2 separate regions of the Homo sapiens genome follow, and region 2 is linked to region 1. A link means that fine-mapping ties the variant in region 1 to the expression of a gene that starts in the linked region. Tissue or cell type: whole blood. Region 1 holds a variant in brackets; the other region holds the start of a gene. All regions are shown on one strand. Distances are between the middles of the regions.

Region 1 (10,965 bases):
ACCCGAAATCAAAAGATAGATGTGATTAGATAAGACTGAAGGCTTTTAGCCTTAAAATTTTTCAAACAAACTCAATTTCCGTTATTTTTCAACCTACTGTGCCCCAGTTTCCCTTTACCTGTGGGATGTAAATAATAACAGTATTGAGCTCACAGGGCTGCTGGAAGGGGAAATGAACTAATCCACATGAAGCATTCAGAACAACGCCCGGCACGTGCTGAGCACTCACTAAATGTCAGGCACTATCAGCTGCCACCACAGCATCTCTGAAGTTGTCCTTCTGACACTGGGTAGTTTAGCAGGTGATAGTATGCAGGGTAGGGTGGGTTTTTTGTTGTTGTTGTTTGTTTGTTTGTTTTTTAAAGAGAGCTTTCAGTTCAAGGTCGTTTTTGATGTAAGAAAATGCAAAAGATCCCATGATTCTTTCACTACAAGTAGGAGTTTTATCATCAAGATTCTTCACTGGTCCCTGGGCAATCAGTTGTTTATCAAAGCAAAGGATAAAAAGAGACATTTCAGAGAACAACTAGAAAACGTCCCAGGCCAACCTGCAGCTCACCATCCAGAGTGTCTCCAACAGAGCATCCTCACGGCTCCAAAATGCTTCTTCCTTGGTGGTTAAAGAAATACTCCACCATCTGCCAACCTGACTACCGGATCCAGAAATTTACCATTGCCTTCAACTCTTCCTTCTTTCATTTGCATTTCTCCTAAGTAGCTCTTGAATCCACCTGTCTTCCTCTCTATCTCTGTGGTCACTTCCCTGAGCCCAGGCCACCATCATCTGTCACCTAGACAACAACCACCACTTGCTAACTGGATGTCCAGTTAAGCCACAGTCTAATCCAAATACACACTGTCACGGTGGAATTATCTAGAAGCCAAAAAGGCTTCAAGGGCTTCAGCAGAGTCCTTTAATGTAGTAAACAAGGCTACAATCTGCATTCTTTATAAGAAGCCAGTCATTGTAAATATGGTGCTTTCCTGTGTTCTGCAAGTCCTTCTAGAGAATTATTAAACTTGATGGGCGAGGGGGTCATAGAAAACCCCAAATTTGTGGTCGGCTGGGCAGAAGTGTGAGGAATCTGAGGACCCCACTTGTGGCTGGTGACTGAATTTGGGGCAGTCTCATGGGACTGAACTCTTAGCTTGTGGGGTCTACACTAACACTAGGTGTGTCATAACTGAATAGGACAGCAGCTGCAGTCAGAGAATTGATGTTGGAACATAAATGCATTCTTCGTGCTGGGGAGAGCTTGAGTGTAGATGCTACTTTTACCTCCTTAGCAGCTAACAGAGTCTAGCACAGAGGAGGCTTGTCATACCCCTTTCCTGAATGAATGAATGAAAGAACAAACTAATAAATGGAGGCTGGAGTGTTTTGCAGGACTCATCTGCAGCAGTCAAGGATGTTTATGAATGGAAGAATGGCACCAGGCGTGAATCAATTAGTCCTACAAAAACCATAAATGGCTGATGGGTTGCAACTCAAGAGAGGCAGCAACTGCTTCCCCACCCTGCCATTCCGTCAGGCTTTGCCCATCCCGTTAGTGTTCTCTAGGGAGATGAAAACCATATTATGCAAGGAATAAATATTTCAAGCAAGTTGTCTGTTTCCTTCTCTGCTGTTTTGTATTTGGTCGAAAATTAACGCTAAGAAAAATACTCAGCTCCCGGCGTGCCTCCATACTCTATATACCTCTACCCTGCCCCTGAATGCAGCCACAGGGAAGTCAGGTGCACTGCACCTTAACAGTCCTATTGTGTACAGGCACACCCAGGGCATTCTGAGACCAGAGTAGTGGGCAAGGCACTCAAGGAGTTGTGTCTACGTGAGGTTTTACTGGAGACAAGCTTTGCAAAGGAAGAGTTCACAGCTCTAGGCTTCTGGTGGATCTGTTTGGCTTGTGTTTACCTAGAATCCTCAGTTATAAAATACATCTAATAAATAGCCCGGCCTCTGAAGGCTACATACATTCACCTGAAATGCAACATCCCTTTGCAGTAAATTTCTTTTATTTTGGAGACAGGGTCTCACTCTGTCACCCAGACTGGAGTGCAGTGGAGCGATCTCGGCTCACTGCAACCTCTGCCTCCCAGGTTTAAGCGATTCTTCTGCCTCAGCATCCCAAGTCGCTGAGAATGCAGGTGCACGCCACCACACCCAGCTAACTTTTGTATTTTTAGTAGAGATAGGGTTTTGCCATGATGGCCAGGCTGGTCTCAGACTCATGACCTCAAGTGATCCTCCCAAAGTGCTGGGATTACAGGCATGAGCCACTGTGCCCGGCCTTGGAGGAGATTTCTGAGTTAAATTCAGACATCTATGGATTCAGGTCAGGGGCAGCTTTCTGATGGTCACAATAGGTCTAAGGGTAAAATTCTAGCATCCCTGCTTCCACCCAGACAGAAGGGGTCTGGCTGTGCCTACATTCTGTATTTCCTCATCAGCCTTCTAAGCCCTGGGCTTAGCCTCGAAGAACTGGCTGGAACCATCCCACCCTCTGCTCCTTGTTCTTCCTCCTCACTCCACTGACATCCCTGTGGGAAGGAGAGCTCCTAGTACTATCCCTCCTCAAAAATCAATGGGGGTGGGGTTGCAGGGAATCTACACAGATTCAATTTTTACCATAGAGGCAGAGCCATTGATCCATTGACTGCAGGTCTCAGGGTCATTCTGAGAGTGCTTTCTGCTGGTTTTGTAAACACAAGAAACATTCCTGTGGGTGAGTGCATAGGCTGGATACGGCTGGGGGATGAGCAAACCACTGTGCCTAGAGGAAAGGATTCACATTTCACAGGCTTTTTCCAAGAAAGGAAGAATGACGTGGAGAGGCATTTGGGGTCCACTTTGGAGTCTGATCAGAATCGAGGCCCAGTGATTGAACCATTCTGGAGGCAGGTCAGTGTGGGGTGGGGAGACGCGGTCCAGGAAGCCAGAGGCTGAGTAGCCAGGGGTCACTATGGTTCTCTATGCACACAGTCCACCCTTGGTGGGACGACAGCCCTGCCTCAAGGCTGTCCCTGGAGCATCACACACACAGTGTGACACGTCTACCCTTCACCACTGTTGCTGATGCTCCTTTCTAAATGACAAGAGCCATGTGTTGGTGCACGCTGTCCTCTCCACCTTGAATATCCCCTCCTCATTCTTCAACAGCTGACCCCTCATGCTCCTCCTCATTATCACTACCCTACCCCCAGGCTTAGTGAGGCTCCTTCCTCTCTGCCCCCAGGTTACACCTTTTGCTTATATTCATCCCAGCACTGGCTGGCAGGGTGGCTCACACCTGTAATCCCAGCACTTTGGGAGGCCAAGGCAACAGGATCACCCGAGGTCAGGAGTTCAAGACCATCCTGCCTAACATGGCAAAACCCCGTCTCTACTAAAAATAGAAAAATTTGCCGGGTGTGGTGGCAGGCACTTGTAATCCCAGCTACTTGGGAGGCTGAGGCTGGAGAATTGCTTGAACCCAGGAGACGGAGGTTGCAGTGAGCCGAGATCGTGTCACTGATCGTGATGGGGTTTTACCATGTTGGCCAGGCTGGTCTCGAACTCCTGACTTCAGGTGATCTGCCCACCTAGGCCTCCCAAAGTGCTGGGATTACAGGCATGAGCCACCACGCCAACGCGCCCAGCCAAGCCAACTGTTAAAAATAATTAAAGAATTATTTTTTTCTCTCTGTATAAATATTTTAAACATTTATGAGAGCTACAAATCATATAGCTTTTCTTGTGTATTTATACCCAAATTCACTGTGGCTTTGCCTATGAACCAGCCCCTACAAGAGAAAAAATTAAAGGGGGTTGCAGAGATTTCTCTTTGAAAGATAAGCAGAATCTTTAGAACTTACAAAGTCAAAAGGCTATACAGTTTCTTTATTCATTCCAAACTGACCTCCCATCATTTCAAATAAATAAAATGCTCTATTTACTCCATGAACTGACTCATGTCAGGCTCTCGGCAAAGGTTCCAGTAAAACTCAAGACTCAAGGGACTGTGTCCTCAAAAGGCTGTGTACTACATGATTCCATTTGTATAAAATGTCCAGAATAGGCAAATCCAGAGACAGAAGGCAGATGAGTGGTTGTCAGGGTCAGCGTGGGTGGGGAGACTGTGAAACAGGGAGGGACTGCTTAATGGGCATGAGGTGTCTTTCGGGGATAATGAAAATGTTGTGAAATTAGATAGTGGCGATGGTTGCATAACACCATGAATGTACTAAAAGCCACTGAAACTTATACTTCAGAACGGCTAAAATGATAAATTCTGTGATGTGAATTTTACTGCAATAAGCAAAACAGTGACTGTGTCTTACCTTCCTTCCAAAGGTTTACTAGAAACTGTGCAAGCTGTTTCATAATCACAATGTTGAGAACTGGAAAGGATGATCCTTTTTAAAGTTGGGGAACCACTAGCCCAACATCGCCATGAGGGGAAATAGAGGCCGTGTCAGCCCCAACCATCAAAGGAGACCTTTGTGCACTGGGTTTGCTGTAAATGACAGAAGCCACTTCAAAAGCCTCTTTGGAGCTGTTCAGTAAAATGCTCAGGGAACACCTGGGCACACTCAGGCAAGATAAACCACACAGACACCTCGCAGACAGACCTCCCAGGACAGAGGGACAGCAACAAGACTCCAAAAGCAACTTGAAGTTTTGGCAGCATGATCATCCACAGAGTGAAGTTCAACATTCAGTCAAGAAGAATCATTCTGATTACTTAATTGGAAGATCTGATACTTCTGAAATGAAACATTTCACAAACTCTACTGAAATAAGAAATACTTTTGATTTATTTTTTAAAAAATGAATCATTGGTTATGGAAAGAACTATATGGTCTTGCAGACAGGACAAAGTTAAAGATGTTTTGCAAGCTTAACACAACCAAATCTGATTTGAGAATTATTTTGAGGCTTGCAGCTCTGTTTGTGGCATAAATATATACATACATACATACGCAGGTATATATGTATGCAAAAATGCTTATTGACTGTGGAAATGACAGTTTAAGTCACTCTGTATTTCTTTTTTCCATGAGTCTAATATTGAATTACGATGATTCAAAGGCTCTCAGAGTGTTGTGCTAACATCGTAAATGGCTAAACATCCAAAAAAGAAAACAATTAAAACACAACGCACACACAATTTTCTTAAAGTTGTGGAAAATTAGGTAGGCACAGTTGATTGTTTTGAGCTGGTAGAAAAACCTGGGCAGCTAGCAGAGGTCTGGACAACCACGGAAAGCCCACAGCAAGGACCACACCGTGAGCAGCCACCAGAGATTTGGGATGGTAGACTTACCAAGAGTGTCCACTGGCGGGGGGGCACACGGTGAGAAAGTGCAGGATACACAATTGACACAAAAAGGAAAATAATAAAGTCAAACTGGTATTCAAGCAGCAGCAGTCTTACCTTTGTTTCATGTGTTAAACAGTCCATGGCTCGCCACCAAATTTTCTATTAGGGCTGATTAAACCCACATCCACATTCCCCTTCTCTGCCTTACTAATATCTTCCTTCCTTCTCATCTAAACAAAACCTTCCCAGTTAGTAATGACCACCCCTAGAGAAGACAGCAAGGATTTTTAAAAAGAGAGATGAAGAATATATACCCAGAAGAAGCCAAGCTTTGGCAAGAAAACCTTTCGAGTGTCATTTACCATCACTTGAAAAATATCTAGGAAATTCCTAGGAAACAAAGCTTAGGGTGGGATGAAAATGGAAAAAAAAAATTAAAGAGTTTAAAATTGTAGTATAACAGCAAATACTATGCTCGTATAGAACTCTGTGAGTCTGTTTATTACATTTATAACATTGGCTTTGCAGCCTCTAGTGGAAAGTGAGAGAGTCAACTATTTACATGTCAGCTGTGCAGTTAACATATTATAATGTTCCAGTTCTCTCTCTCTCAAGAAAAGTCCCTGCTGGGCGCAGTGGTGTGTGCCTGTAATCCCAGCTACTAGGGAGGCTGAGGCGGGAAGATCCCTGAAGCCCAGGAGTTTGAGGTCAGCCTAGGCCACCTAGTGAGATGCTGACT[C/CAA]AAAAAAAAAAAAAAAAAAAATCAAGACTTCTTAGATTTAATGATGTCATGGTAATAAGTGGAACAGTGACCATAATAAGTACCTAATGAATGCTGGCCATTATTATTTTTAAAAATCCCTTATAAACTTTTTGTAGTTACAGATGGAAACAGAAGGCTTTACCAGAATTTTTTTATTTTTTTTTTTGAGACAGAGTCTCCCTCCGTTGCCCAGGCTGGAGTGCAGTGGTGCAATCTTGGCTCATTGCAACCTCCACCTTCCAGGTTCAAGCAATTCTCCTGCCTCAGCCTCCCGAGTAGCTGGGACTACAGGCGCCCGCCACCACGCCCGGCTAATTTTTGTATTTTTAGTAGAGATGGGGTTTCACCATGTTGGCCAGGATGGTCTCGATTTCTTGACCTCATGATGCACCCGCCTCAGCCTCCCAAAGAGCTGGGATTACAGGCGTGAGCCACCACGCACAGCCCAGAATTAATTTTTAATTCACATTGATAGTAACATGGGAGTTAAATGAGAATAAGGCTGCTGAGTTCATACGGTTGGGTGGCACACGTAGGTAAATACAATGTAAAACGCCTCTCATTTCTGATGCTCTCTCTTACTTTTCCCCATTGGGTCGTGGTCAACTCCAAGACCTCCAAGGCAATAAGCTGATTATCATGGAGCAGGAAGAGGGCTCAAGAGACACTGTTCAGAGCCTGGGGTTACTGGGTCCGCTCCACACCATCTCCCCAGCATCCTGCCGCCTCCGTCCCTCCACCTGTCGGCAATGCTGGCTCTGCCCCGTGCTCTTGACCCTGTGCACGAGCCCAGAATTTCTCTGAGGGTGAGGACTGGCTAACTCCTTGCCTCGTGTTTACTTCTAGTAGGCATCTGACAAGCTTGCCTTCAAGAAAAACAGGCACACTCATCCACAGCCATAGCATATCCCAAGCTGCTAAAAAATGATTTTGAGATAAAACCTACCAAAGGCAAACCATTGAAAGTTTCTTGAAGGAAATATTTAAACACCTTTAGATTACAAACCACCTCTCTATATAGTAAGAAAGAGTCGAAGAATGTGATAAAAGGTGGTATCTGCAGAGTAAGAAGGAAAGTGAGCCGCTCACAAAAATCACATCCGTGTGTGTCTGCCCACGTCAAGGATGGTGGTAAAACCATGCTTACATGCACAAAGGCACTTGAAATGCTAAAAGGAGAGTCCAGAGAATTTTTAGATCAAAGATCAGAGTTTTTGAAAAAGGCATGGCAGGAAGCTGCTTGAGAATCTCCTGGAAACATATTAAAAAGGAAGTGATTATCTGGCTGCATACATCAGATTCCGTCTATCAGGACAAAAAAAAAAATGTATCCAAAACCTTCATCCATCCGAACGCGTGGTGCGTCAGAAGGAACTGCTAACACTTTTACAAACCGAGGGTCCGGGAATCTGCCACTTGAAGGAGATGAAACAGATCCCTCGAGGTGTTCTAGTAGAAAGGGAAATGTCAGCTAACCAGACCCCTAAACAACTGAAAGCCTCAAATGACCAGATTTCTTCCAGCCCTTAAGTGAGTTGTGTTTTCTTCAGTCCATTCTCAGCCATACATATGCCTCCTAGGAGAGCTCTCCATAAAAGATTCCAGTCCGAATGTGACTCTAGTACCTTTCAGAAGGCTGCTTTCATCCCAGAAATATACAAATAGAACACCTGGTCCAAAACTGCACTTACTGATTTTAGAAAAAAATCTTTATAAAGGACAGAAATAAAAATTATTTTCTGGTGGTATCTTGAAGTAACTAGAAATTCTCTAGAACATTCCAAGCTATGGATCTGACCGATCTCGTGGACCTAAGTCCACCGTGTGGAAAAGACACGGTGCCAGAGACTGCTGGTGTGAGGCTGTGGCTGAGAAGACAGATGCTTCAGAAACCCCTGATCCCAACCTCCATTCTCTCATCTGTCAGGCCAATGTGCCCTAAGAAACCACACAACTGAATGCCAATCATTCCCAAGTCCCAGGGCCAGATGCCTCTCTTCATGTTATGCACAGTCCAGCATTCTATGGGTCCCATATCTTCCTATCCAGCCTTGATAGGGAGCTCATTATCCTGCAGGCAGCCCGAGCCAGTGCTAGGAAGGTCTAATTGCCAGAAACTTCTTTTGATGTTGCATTGCAATCACCCTATCAGGCTTCACCCAGAGGTATAAATTCTGCTAATTGGGCAATGCCAGTGACTTTGAGTGACAGAGGACAACCAATTCAGCCTCCATGCAGAACTTAGATAAAAGGATTATCACTGTAGCCAAGAACTTAGGGCCTCTGAAAACTGAGTGGTGGAAGAGCTGAGGGAAAACAGCCACTTTTTCTTCCTTCATCCTTTTCACCAAACTCCCAAACCTTTTCTAAGCCTAAGCATCTTCCCTGGACCACCTCTCCCAGCCCAGGAATCCTTCCTCTCTCAAAGCTGCCAACCTGTCAGTTATGTGGAGTTCAGCCCCGAACTGTGACCAGCCTGCTCTCTTCCGGGCCTCAGACTTCATGGAATATGGTAGTAATTTTACTTATAAATGCTTACCTCTACAGTCACTAAAATGTTACTATGTCACAAACCCTATTACTTGTCAAACACTAGCTCCCAGGTGCCCTGGTTAGATAGGATACAAATCTGAGAAGCTCCAGACTAAAATAAAACATACGAAAGAAACTGCTGGGGCCAATGCTGATGGAAAATCTGATTGTGGGTGAAAATTCTGCTGCCTTTATCTCAAAATGGGTTTATGGTTGTTGTGAAAATTCAGGGTGGGGGGCTCATTTTATAGAAATGTTCAAGGTTAAAAACTGTGTCCTATCATCACCCCACTACACACCACCCTCCACAATCCCATCTCTACAAATGTGTCTTCTATTTCCAACAGAGAACGCTGGTTTAGGGGAGAGAAAATTCAGGCTGGGGGATCCCAACTCGAAAAGGTTGTCTCAAATTAATGGTAAACACCACCCACAGAGCAGCCTGACGGAAGAATCCCATCTTATCAGTTGTGAAGCAGCAGATTCAGAAACTTGGTGTCAAAGAAGAATAGACTGGAAGGAATGTCACCTTCTCTAGCTCAGGAGAAAGTCCCTACATTTTTAGGTGGTAGTAAAATGTCACAAGTGCTTGCAAAGTGGATGCTGCTAGATTTTTCTCTTCAAACTCCCAGTCCATTCTGGAGGAACAAAGGTGGGTCAAAGATCTGACGATTCATTTGTTTGTGAAGGAGGATAAACAAGGATGTGGGGGAAAGGCATCTTGCCTGGTTGTGCTCAGTGGTAGATTATCAAGCTCCTCCCTCATGAACACCATGGAAAATCCCCTGTATGGCCATGACTCCCAGCTTCCCCTGCACCCATTCCTAGCATTCTCACAAGACTTAATAAAGGGTTTTGAAGATTATAGGCTGTGAAAGCTGCAGGAGAAAATGACATAATTTCTGTAATAATTACTAGAGAACATTTGCATAAAGGCCTTTCTGCATTATCCCAAGGCTTCTAAGAAATTTATAGGTATCATTACGAAGCACAATAGGCATGGAAACTGTCAAACTTGGAAGACAAAGGTGGGGGAAGGAACACGTCAAGTACCACTTGGCAAAGGCCTCAAATTAATACCTATTCTGCACTTTGAGAATGTGAACTCAGATAGGTCCTATTTGCTCCCACCTGTTTTCCAGGGCCGTCATACTTAAGGAAGTCTCTGAAGTGAACACCTTTCACTTCAAAAACAAATCAAGTACTCCATCAGGAAGTAACATCAGTGGCAGAATTTTAGGAGTTACCTTTTTTTGCTTTCTTCTGCAGTTTCAGCGTATCCGAGGACTTCTTTTTTATCTCTTGGCGGGCTTTCTTATATTCTAAGAGAAAGCAGAATATGGAACAATTTTACCACTTTGCTTAACAGAAAATATGTTAGGTAGGAAACAGCCATTACATTTATCACAGAAAGCATAAACTGTGACATGCCGTCAATGGCTTTATCAGAATACAATATGATAATCTCATGATGACATTTACAACAAAGGGGCTAGAGACACGAAAACAAAATGCACAGTGGTCTTGCCCTGTCATATTCACTCATACCAGCTTTGAAGGGAGGCTCCGTTTGGGAATACTTTTTTTTTTTTTAAGACAGAGTCTTGTTCTGTGGCCCAGGCTGGAGTGCAGTGGCATGATCTCGGCTCACTGCCACCTCCACCTCCCGAGTTCAAGCGATTCTCCCACCTCAGCCTCCTGAGTAGCTGGGATTACAGGCGCCCACCACCACGCCCAGCTAATTTTTGTACTTTTAGTAGAGATGGGGTTTCACCATGTTGGCCAGGCTGGTCTTGAACTCCTGACCTCAAGTGATCCTTGGCTTCCCAAAGTGCTGGGATTACAGGCATGAGCCACCATGCCTGGCGGGGAATACTTTAGTAAAAATGAAAAAAATTCACAATTTCTCAGCTCAAGTATCCGGAAAGATTTTTCAATATTATCTACTTTCCCCGGGCCCAAATCCACAGTGTTTTGCAAAAACAAAAAAACAAACAAAAAACAAAAAACCCCTATGTGGAAAAGATGCTGGGCAGATGTTAAAATCCAGAAAAAGTGTCTCATACAGCAGGAGAAGCTAGATCACACAGTGGGGAGACTGGGCAAGAAGAACCAGCTGCCTTACTTTCAGCATGAATCCTGTGGCTAGATACCACAAACACCTCAGAGGGGCAGTCCAAGTGCACCACATCCCCTGCCAAGCACTTCCTCCTCCACCACTGGCCCATTCGCAGACTGCCCCATTTCTGTTGCTGGCATCCTCATCACCCAGACATAGACACCTGGGATGATGGTCACCTGTGACACTTTTCCCTTTGCTGCCCTCACAGTCAATTAATTGCCAGCTGCTGTACATTTCACCTTGGCCAG
Region 2 (10,965 bases), 130 kb before region 1:
CACCACGGTGGAGGAGAGCTGTAGTTCTCCACACACCCGGCAATCCATTTTGTTGTGTAGGGAGGCTGAAGTTTGTGCCCAGCCAGCAAAGAGATTGCCTCTTAGCTAATACCAATATGTGTCCAGAATTGGGATATTAATCCAGATTTTTATGTTATTTATCTTTCTTGTTTCTTCTAAGCAGGAGCCAGATATCACTGGTTGGTTCACAGGAATAAGTGGAATCAGTCTCTTGTGTTCCAGCAGCCTGTGGGACTTCATAAGAAACAGACTTAATTCAAGATCAATGAGCCCAGCTGCTTCTTCCTTGAAGTGTAACTGCGGTTGAGGCACTAAGGAGTACTTACTTAGTAGGGTCCTTTCCACTGTGGGAAAGTTGATCTGCTAGGGACCATTTTTTCAAGTCATTAACAGGATCCCATTTCCTGGCTGGATTACAATAGGATTTTTTTCCTTAGTGAGGGAAGGAAGTCTCTCATTTCTGTATTCAAGAAGAGCTTTTTGCACCTGACCTAAGTTGGCAACATAATTCTGTAATTTGAAAGTATCTCCATCTACTAGGAAATCAGCAATTCTTTCAGAAAGGCTTTCCGTACATTATTTCAAAAGGGCTGAGCCTTCCACTGGGGCAGCCCAAACTTGCAGCGAGGCCACAGGCGATAGACGGAGCCAGGTTTCTGATGTTTCCTGTCAGAGCTTAGCAAGGGTCCTGTCTAAAATTTGATTGGTCCTTTCTACTTTTCCTGAAGACTGTGGCCTCCATGCGGAATGAAGACCATATTGAATTCCTAGAGCGGATGCTATGTCTTGGTTATTGTTGCTGTAAAGATGGGCCATTATCACTCTACAAGCTTTTAGGCAACCTGAATCTGGGAATCATATCCTTGAATGAAAATTTAGAAACCTTGATTGACTTTTCAGGCCAGATAGGAAAAGCTTCAATCCAACATGTAAAGAAAGGTATCAACCAACACTGATAAATATTGGAATCCTTTACATGGGGGCATTTGGGTATAGTGTGTTTGCCAATCTTCTTCTGGGTACGACCCCCTATGCTGAACAGGCTTTACTAATGGAGGAGGTAAAGTTTGGTTGTTTGAGGTTTTTTTGGGCACACAATTCACAGGCCCAAGTCACTTGTTTTACTGTTCTAAGAAAGTCTTTTCGGCCAGGCACGGTGGCTCACGCCTGTAATCCCAGCACTTTGGGAGGCTGAGGTGGGTGGATCACGAGGTCAGGAGTTCAAGACCAGCCTGGCCAACATGGTGAAACCCTGTCTTTACTAAAAATACAAAAATTAGCTGGGCATGGTGGCAGATGCCTGCAATCCCAGCTACTCGGGAGGCTGAGGCAGAGAATTGCTTGAACCCAGGAGGCAGAGGTTGCAGTGAGCTGAGATCACACCACTGCACTCCAGCCTGGGTGACAGAGCGAGACTCCGTCTCAAAAAAAAAAAGAAAGTCTTTCCCTATAAACAGATGAGCCATATTAATTGAAATGAGAAATCTCTTCCCAAATGAGTAGAGCCATGCCAATACTTAACTATTTTCCATTGATCAGCTCTTGGTACATATCATCTGTCATTTTCATCAATTAGCCATCTGGAAGTGCTTATAGTTAACCCATGGGTCTTAGCCCATTTTTGTTCTTTTCTAGTATTAACCATGCTCTAGTTTTATCGTCACCAAGGCAGTGGGCACCAACATGCCTACCAGATTAACTGGTTCCCTCAAATGAAGCTGCCTCAGCTGTAGCATCTGCAAAAGAATGCCCTTTTATTATTTTGGAGTTTTCTTTCTTTCTTTTCTTTTCTTTTTTTTCTTTTTTTTTTTTTTTTTGAGTCAGAGCCTTGCTCAAGTTGCCCAGGCTGGAGTGCAATGGCACGATCTCAGGCTCACTGCAACCTCTGCTGCCCAGGTTCAAGCAATTCTCCTGCCTTAGCCTCCCAGGTAGCTGGGATTACAGGCACGAGCCACCACGCCCAACTAATTTTTGTATTTTTAGTAGAGATGGGGTTTCACCCTGTTGGCAAGCCTGGTCTCGAACTCCTGACCTCATGATCCGCCCGCCTTAGCCCCTCAAAGTGCTGGGATTACAGGTGTGAGCCACAGTGCCTGGCATATTTTGGAGTTTTCTTTTTGATGTCCCTTGCAGTGAATCACAGCAACTTCCTTAGGCAGCAAGGAAGCATCTAGTAGATTTAAAATTCCCAAATAATGTTCTATAGGGGAGCCCTTAGAAGTTAAAGAGTCCCCATTATTTCCAAATAGCAGCATGAGCATGAAGCACCAGAAAGCCATACTTGGAGTTTGTGTACATGTTAATTCTTTTTTAAAATTATTATCCTTTTTTGAGACAGAGTCTCGCTCTGTCTCTAGCCTGGAGTGCAGTGGCATGACCTTGGCTTACTGCAAGCTCTGCCTCCTGGGTTCAAGTGATTCTCCTCCCTCAGCCTCCTGAGTAATTGGGACTACAGGTGTGCACCACCACGCCCAGGTAATTTTTGTATTTTTAGTACAAATGGGGTTTCACCATGTTGGCCAGGCTGTTCTGGAACTCCTGACCTCAAGTAATCCGCCTGCCTCAGCCTCCCAAAGTACTGGGATTACAGGTGTGAGCCACCACACCCAGCCCTAGTGGCCCGTCTTTTAAATCCTGCCAGCTGGAATAAATTTGTTCCATAGCTTGTGTACATGAATGATCTAGGGTGCCTTTGGATCCAAGTAGATACGTAGCTAGGATTAAGGTCTTCTGTTATACTTTAAGAGTTATATCAAGAGTATCTAGCAATAAAGCCTGATAATTTAATAACTATCCCCTACTCATCTATTGGTGCCCTTTAGCTTCTAGGGCCTCTGTTATTTGGTGTGGGGTCAAAACCTCCAGATGTTGTCCCAAAGTTAATTTATTGTCTTCATCTATGAGAAGAGCAGTTGTTGCAACTGCCCTGAAACATCTGAGTCATCCTGAAGCCACATGGTCAATTGGTTAGAAAAATATGCCATGGGTCAAGGGATGTATCCCTGTTTCTAGACAAGAACATTTAGGGCTGTCCCTTGTTTCTCAGCCACATAAAGGAAGAAAGTAAAGCCTGTCCCTAAACCCACGGGGAAGAATTGTCCAAGTTAACACAGAAACCAAAAGATTATTAGGTAATCAAAAGTAAAGACCACAATAGGGGACTCAGCAAAAGAAATGTTTCACTAGAGAAGGGAAATGACAAAGTTCTAGAAAGGAATGTCCAAGTTCAGGCCAGTAGCGGCAAGCAGGACAAGATTTACATGGCCTTGCCATTTGTAACCAAAAAGTAAAAGTCATTCCATTAGCAAGGAGATGAAAAAGAACTGCTGAAAAGCAATCTCCAGTTTTCCATCCTGGAGCAGTTCACCTAGGGGGGACTGGTATAATTGCTGCCAGGCTTAATCTTTCACATTGGACCTTTTCATTTAAAACTTGTAAATGCGAAATTCCAAGTAAGCTTTGCAAAAAAGGAGAGACAATAAACAATTCATTTAAGTGGTCTAGATCTAGGGAAAGTAAATATTACAGAGCCATTTGTCCCCAATGTCTTCTAGCAACATGCCAGAACAACAGGCAAATGGCCCATAACCCAAAGGCAAACAAGAAAAAGGAAAGTTAAAAACCTCAGGACCAGTTCAACAAGATCTCTCTCATAAAGTAGCAGTAAAGCATAGAAAGCAATCAGGAAACTGGCAAGTGGCAGCCTTTGGAAAGCTCTTACAGAGAGCACAAGGAGGACGAATCCACAGTGAATAATGGTTAACATCCCATTGTGCTAAACCCATTTTCAGCTGTGAGGGGCCTTTAATCCTCCCAAGTAGGCCTCAAACCCAATCTTAGATAAGTGTCCTTGTCCTTCATCGGTATAAAAATGTATTCCCCTTCTTACCCAAAGTCAGTCAGTTGGTCCTGCGCAGTCTATTTCTTTTGGGTTGAAGGTCTCACCTCAATAAAGTCCTTGGGAGTTGCCACAGGAAATGTTACTTAAAAGGAATTTTGTTCCAGACCCAAAAAACAGGTTCTTGGATCTCAGACAGGAAAGAATTTAGGGCCAGTCACAGAGCACAGTGAAAGAAGCAAGTTTATTAAAGACTACTCTATTACAGAGTAGGGTGTTCTCAGAAGGCGAGAGGAGGACCCCACACCAAAAATTATGTAGCTAGCTAAGAATAATGGTCTCATGTGCTTTAGTACAACAGCTTGTGATCCACTTGTGACAGAGTATTAGTAGTGTTATTCTCTGTGTAACTATTGATTTCAGCAAACATTTATGAAAATACTATTATCTTTAAAGAGAAACCTATTCTTAAACTAATAATGCTTTCTGTTCTCAAGATATCAGGACATCTTCTTAAGTTCTGGGTCTTGTTTAGTGAGTAAGAATCATTAGCTCGTTCAGCCAAAAGGTCTTGTTATGGGTAGAGGGTGTCCAGGTTCGTGACATCTTGAACAAAGAATTGGACAAAATGTACAAACCAAGGAAAGAATGAAGCAACAAAATCAGATTTATTGAAAATGAAAGTACACTCCCCAGGATGGGAGCAGCCCCTGTCTAGGGGCTCAACAGCTGGGTTACAGAATCTTCTGGGGTCCAAATACCCACTAGAGGTTTCTTACTGGTCACTTGGTGTTCACCCCATGCAAATGAAGTAGTGGCCTGCAATCAGAGGCTGAAGTAAAGTTACAAAGTTGCACTCCTATGCAAACGTCTGATTGAGGCCATTATTTCATTTGCATGGAGTGCACACCAAGTGGCCAATGGGAAACCTCTAGTGGGTATTTGGATTGATTGGTGGCTTTCTGCAACCAATCAGAGGTACTTTCAATTTTCCTTCTGCCCTGCAGAAAAGCAGGTTTGCAAAGGGAGTAACCTCTGGTCCTTCTGTTACTTAGGCATAGATAGTTGGTTTTTTCCTTTTGATTTAGTTCTACGAAGTCAGTGTGAATCAGCCTTAGGTTCCCTGCCTCCAGACCCTATTTTCCTGCCTCAGTCTTATTATGGAGAGTACTTAACTTTCTGGGAATGTAACCCAGCAGGTTTTGCTTTATTCAGCCTTTATTCAAGATGGAGTCACTCTGGTTTGGACTCCTCTGACAGCGGGAGTGAAGTAGAAGTGATAGGGTTTCTTTACAGTTCTTATATCCAACTATTTGATTTAGTCTATATGGAATTCCCCTTTGTCTTCTTTAGGAATATCAAAGCATTTCAACAGGTATTTAGTACCTGTGAGCTAGCCAACTTGTTACTTTGTATCTTTTTAAGTATCTACTCTTTACTAGTTATTGTCTAAGACACTATAATGTCTCTACTCACTATAGCAATCTTCTGAAGATTAGATTCCATTTTATAAGTGAAGATTCCAATTTTGAGGGGTGATACGATTTACTGGAACTCAGATCCTTCTGACTTTCAAATAGTTGTTTCTTGGACCAAAGGACAATGAAACAGTGATGACTATATCTGCATGAAAAGGGAAAAAGGGAGCTGTATCTGACTCTTCACTTTCAGAAAATAAGGTGGCTGCTGATGCTAACCTGAGAGCAGCATTAGGCTATGGGAAAGCTTTCTCCAAATTCAGATCATCATTTTGTTACAGGAAAGGGGTCCCAATGCAGACTACAACATGGGGTTCTTGGATCTCATGCAAGAAAGAATTCAGGGCAAGTCCGCAGTGCAAAGTGAAAGCAAGTTTATTAAGAAAGTAAAGGAATAAAAGAATGGCTATTCCATAGACAGAGCAGCCATGAGGGCTGCTGGTTGCCCATTTTTATGGTTATTTCCAGATGATATGCTAAACGAGGGGTGGATTATTCATGCCTCCCCTTTTTAGACCATATAGGGTAACTTCCTGACGTTGCCATGGCATTTGTAAACTGTCATGGCGCTGGTGGGAGTGTAGCAGTGAGCACCACCAGAGGTCACTCTCGTGGCCATTTTAGTTTTGGTGGATTTTGGCCGCTCCTTCACTGCAACCTGTTTTATCAGCAAGGTCTTTTTGACCTGTATTTTATGCTGACTTCCTATCTCATCTGGCGACTTAGAGTGCCTTAACCGTCTAGGAATGCAGCCCAGTAGGTTTCAGCCTCATTTTACCCAGCTCCTATTTAAGATGGAGTTGCTCTGGTTCATGCGCCTCTGACAATTTCATGTTAATTTTTCTCTTTGAATTCATGAGCAGCACTGAAGAGAGTGCATGAGGTTTCTGGAAAATAGCAATTTGAAGTCTTTTAGTCCATAAGATTCCCTGTTATAAATGTCTTCCTAGGCTGAAAAAAAAGTAATGGTTGACCATAAAAAAGATGGCGGCCGCAGCTTCTCCACAGCAACGGCAACGCCATTCTCAAGCAAGCGCATCAATATATTTAGTTCCGGCCTCTTTGCACGTCATTTCCGGCACCGGCATGGCCGGGTGAGCTGCAGGCTACCTTATTTAAGACCGGGAATTTAGTCAGCCTGGTGAGCCGACTCTGAGGAGATGGAGTATCGCTGAGGTGATGAGAGAGAATGTGGTTGTTAGCAACATGGAGAGAGAAAGTGGGAAGCCCGTGGCTGTTGTCGCAGTTGTGACTGAGCCTTGGTTTACCCAGCGATACAGAGAATATCTCCAGAGGCAGAAACTCTTTGATACACAGCACCGTGTGGAAAAGATGCCGGATGGCTCGGTGGCGCTACCGGTGCTGGGAGAGACGCTTCCAGAGCAGCACCTGCAGGAGCTGAGGAATCGTGTTGCCCCAGGCAGTCCCTGTATGCTCACGCAGCTCCCGGATCCTGTTCCTTCGAAGAGGGCCCAGGGTTGTTCACCTGCCCAAAAATTGTGTCTTGAGGTGAGTCGCTGGGTGGAGGGTCGGGGAGTCAAGTGGTCAGCCGAGTTGGAGGCTGATTTGCCCCGATCATGGCAACGGCATGGTAATCTCTTGTTGCTGAGTGAAGACTGTTTCCAAGCCAAGCAGTGGAAAAATCTGGGACCGGAACTCTGGGAGACCGTTGCCTTGGCACTTGGCGTCCAGCGTTTGGCAAAACGAGGGCGGGTATCACCGGATGGTACTCGAACTCCAGCAGTGACACTGCTGCTGGGTGACCATGGCTGGGTAGAGCATGTGGATAATGGTATCCGTTATAAGTTTGACGTGACCCAGTGTATGTTCTCCTTTGGAAACATCACTGAGAAGCTTCGAGTGGCATCGTTGTCCTGTGCTGGAGAAGTGCTGGTGGATCTCTATGCAGGGATTGGTTATTTTACATTGCCTTTCCTAGTTCATGCTGGTGCTGCCTTCGTCCATGCTTGTGAGTGGAATCCCCATGCTGTAGTTGCTCTGAGAAATAACCTTGAGATCAATGGAGTAGCAGATCGGTGCCAAATACACTTTGGAGATAACAGAAAACTGAAGCTCTCAAATATTGCAGATAGGGTGATCCTGGGGCTGATTCCCAGCTCTGAAGAAGGCTGGCCCATTGCCTGCCAAGTGTTAAGGCAGGATGCTGGAGGCATTTTGCATATCCACCAAAATGTGGAATCTTTCCCAGGGAAGAATCTTCAGGCTCTTGGAGTCAGCAAAGTAGAGAAAGAGCATTGGCTGTATCCTCAGCAAATTACCACCAACCAATGGAAAAATGGAGCTACCAGGGATTCTAGGGGAAAAATGCTGTCACCAGCCACCAAGCCAGAGTGGCAAAGGTGGGCAGAATCTGCAGAAACTCGAATCGCCACTCTTCTTCAGCAGGTGCATGGGAAACCATGGAAGACACAAATTCTGCACATCCAACCAGTGAAATCCTATGCTCCCCATGTGGATCACATAGTCCTGGATCTGGAATGCTGCCCCTGTCCTTCAGTTGGCTAGAGGAGGTAGATCCTGGGACACATGGGATCCACGTGCGAGTGGCCCTTAAATGTATCAGTTCAGTCCAGGTTGTCATCCCTTTTGTCCCCTGGTGATCAGTTTTTTTCATATTTTATAGCCCTGAAAGCAGGCTCTAGATCAATTCAAATTATTTCATTTGTCTTTCATTGATAACAGAAAATGAAATACCTGTTTGGGAGAAGCAGCATGGCCCATTGAAATGAGGCTCATCTGTGCAATTATGAATTCCAAATTCTGACCTCAGTTCTGGAATTGAAGTTTCAGTATGTTTTGGCCTCGGGTTTCGTTATTTGCAAAATGAGAGTTTCTTTGAACTGTCTCACGTGACTATTAAGCAACTATACACAGGACATCGGTTATTTTAGAGTGAAAGACACAGTGCTTTTTCCAAATTGCTCTGGCTACCATATAGAAAATTGACTGAAGGAGGGCCAAGATGGAAACAGAGAGACCAGTGAGGAGGCTTCTGTGGTTGTCCAGGTCTGAGGTGATGGTAACTTGGACTCGGATGGTGGTAATGGGAGGTAGATTGATATGATAAATAAAATTGACAGACCAAGCAATGGAATCAGAATTAAGTCCTTAACATGAAGCTGCTTTGTTATTATGACTGACTAAATTAGAGAGAGAAGGGAACAAAAATTATTTTAGTGTATTTCCATTCCCTTACTGTGGCATTCCTAAATGATTGTGAGGGGTTGTCTTATAAATTTGGTTTGTTGTGGTAGAAATATGGTTAAGAATCACCAGTCTATTTTTTTTTTTAAAGCTCATCTGCTGAGGACGAATCACTGTTCTAAATCATAGGGAATCTAGATTTCTAGCCTCAAGCTTGTGCAATAGCTGCCAATTAATACTTATTAGTTTAAAGTTCCTATTAAAATCTTAGATTCGTATAGGCCTCATACTCCCTCTTCATCTTCCTACCGTGGCTGAGAACAGGAGGGACAACCTAAGAAGCTATAGGGAATGTGAGATATTCTGCAGAGCATTTCCAGCCTCACCTTATTTTATGGCTGTCTGCCATAAAAGATGGTTTGCCACTGGAGTGAATAATTGTTTGTTGTTTTGTTTGTTTGCTTTTTTGTTTTTTTGAGACAGAGTCTTGCTCTGTCACCCAGGCTGGAGTGCAGTGGCACCATCTTGGCTCACTGCAACCTCTGCCTCCCAGGCTCAAGCGATTCTCAAGCCTCAGACTCTCAAGTAGCTGGGATTACAGGTGTGCAGCACCATGCCCAGGTAATTTTTGTATTTTTAGTAGAGATGGGGTTTCACCATGTTGGCCAAGCTGTTTTGGAACTCCTGACCTCAAGTGATCTGCCCACCTCGACCTCCCAAAGTGCTGGGATTACAGGTGTTAGCCACCACGCATGACCCAAGATGACTAATTGTTGATTACCACTCAGAGCTTTGTTCTGGTGTATTTTGAAGCTATCTAGGCTGGTTTGCTAGGTGAAGGAAATATAGAAAAGTGTGGCCTTGTATGATTGTACCTGACATTTGGCTGGCTGGATTTGGGCATGGCTACTCATCCTTCTCTTGCAACAGTAGCAGTAAGGACAGGTTGGTGCTGTTTGTGTTATCCAACAAATATTAAGTGCCTATTATATACAAAAGCCACAGGAAACATAACGATCCATTAGATAGAGTTCCTGTCTCTGAGAAACCCACAATCTAGCAGCAGAAATAACACAAGTACTCAAAGAAAGACTTGGAATGCAGTAAGATGAGTGCCATGTGAGTGATAGCACGTTGTAGGAATGAAAAGGTGGGAAAGGAGTTCTCAGAACTGAATAGTGAAGTCTTCAGAGGTAGTGTTTGAATTGGCTCATGAAAACTGGGTAAGATTTTGATGGGTAGGTTGCGGGTAGAAACAGGCACTAGTAGAAGAGAATAACAGATGCAAAAGTTTGAATCCTCAGAAAATGGTATGTTGTTATTAGATAAGTTTGGAACAGAGGAAGCAGTGAGAGATGTGTTGAAGATGGGGGTTGTTGTAAGGATTAAAAAAGCACTGTGTCTTGTACACAGTAATCCCCTAGGGAGATGTTAGCCAGCATGTGATCCCACCACAAAAACAAACAGCCTGCTTATTTCCATTCCCATCTCACAGAGCGGTCTTCCTGTGTTACCTTAATCATCTCCTCCTTTTTTTTTTTTTTTTTGTTTGAGATAGAGTCTCACTCTGTCACCCAGGCTGGAGTGCAGTGGCACAATCTCGGCTCACTGAAACCTCTGCCTCCTGGGTTCAAGCGATTCTCCTGCCTGAGCCTCCCAAGTAGCTGGGACTACAGGTGTGTGTCACCACGCCTGGCTAATTTTTTGTATTTTTAGTAGAGACGGGTTTCACCGAATTAGCCAGGATTGTCTCAATCTCCTGACCTTGTGATCTGCCCGCCTCATCCTCCCAAAGTGCTGAGATTACAGGCATGAGCCACCATGCCCAGCCAGTCATCTCCTCTTTTACATAGTGGGTTTTTCCTCACTTGTGTGTCCATGGCTTGCTGTCCTCAAACTATAAAGATACCAACCTGGAGGTTGAGCCAATATGGGAAGGGAACAAGGAGAAACAATGAGGAAGAGGAGCCAGAGAGTCAGTCTGGGGACTGAGGATTTGCCTTTTTGCCACAAGCTCTGGATAGACAGCTGATGTCAGGTGTGGCCAGTTGAACTCATTCGACCAACAGTTGTTGGACTCCTGCATGCTTGCACTCTCCCTCTCTCATATATATATTATATATATATTCATATAATATATATATCATATATAATATATATATATTCATATATAATATATATTCATATATAATATATATATTCATATATAATATATATATTCATATATAAATATATAAATAAATAAATATATACATATATATATGGGCCCTGTGTGTGCAGTGATGTAAGACTGACATGGCTCTGCCTTCATATAATTTATTTGTTTTTATTTTTTGGAGATGGAGTCTCGCTCTGTCGCCCAGGCTGGAGTGCAGTGGAGCGATCTCAGCTCACTGCAACCTCCGCCTCCCAGGTTCAAGCAATTCTCCTGTCTCAGCCTCCTGAGTAGCTGGGATTACAGGC

Evidence for each region. PIP is the estimated chance that this variant, and not a neighbour inherited with it, causes the effect.
Region 2: it holds the start of TYW2, and the variant in region 1 is fine-mapped to the expression of TYW2 in whole blood (INTERVAL, PIP above 0.99).

The regions. Positions count from the first base shown.
Region 1 is chr8:124,575,245-124,586,209 of GRCh38, forward strand. MTSS1 (MTSS I-BAR domain containing 1) reads right to left here. Exons shown (of 14, transcript NM_014751.6): 6 at 9,843-9,917. LOC105375740 (a long non-coding RNA gene) reads left to right here. Exons shown (of 2, transcript XR_928608.3): 2 at 4,334-5,407. Among named protein-coding and RNA genes, the nearest start is that of NDUFB9, 42 kb to the left of the region's middle. The variant C/CAA (reference allele first, on the strand shown) is at 6,043.
Region 2 is chr8:124,444,412-124,455,376 of GRCh38, forward strand. It overlaps TYW2 (tRNA wybutosine-synthesizing protein 2), which reads left to right and starts at 6,409. Exons shown (of 1, transcript NM_017956.4): 1 at 6,409-8,615. The coding sequence starts at 6,517. The coding sequence ends at 7,863.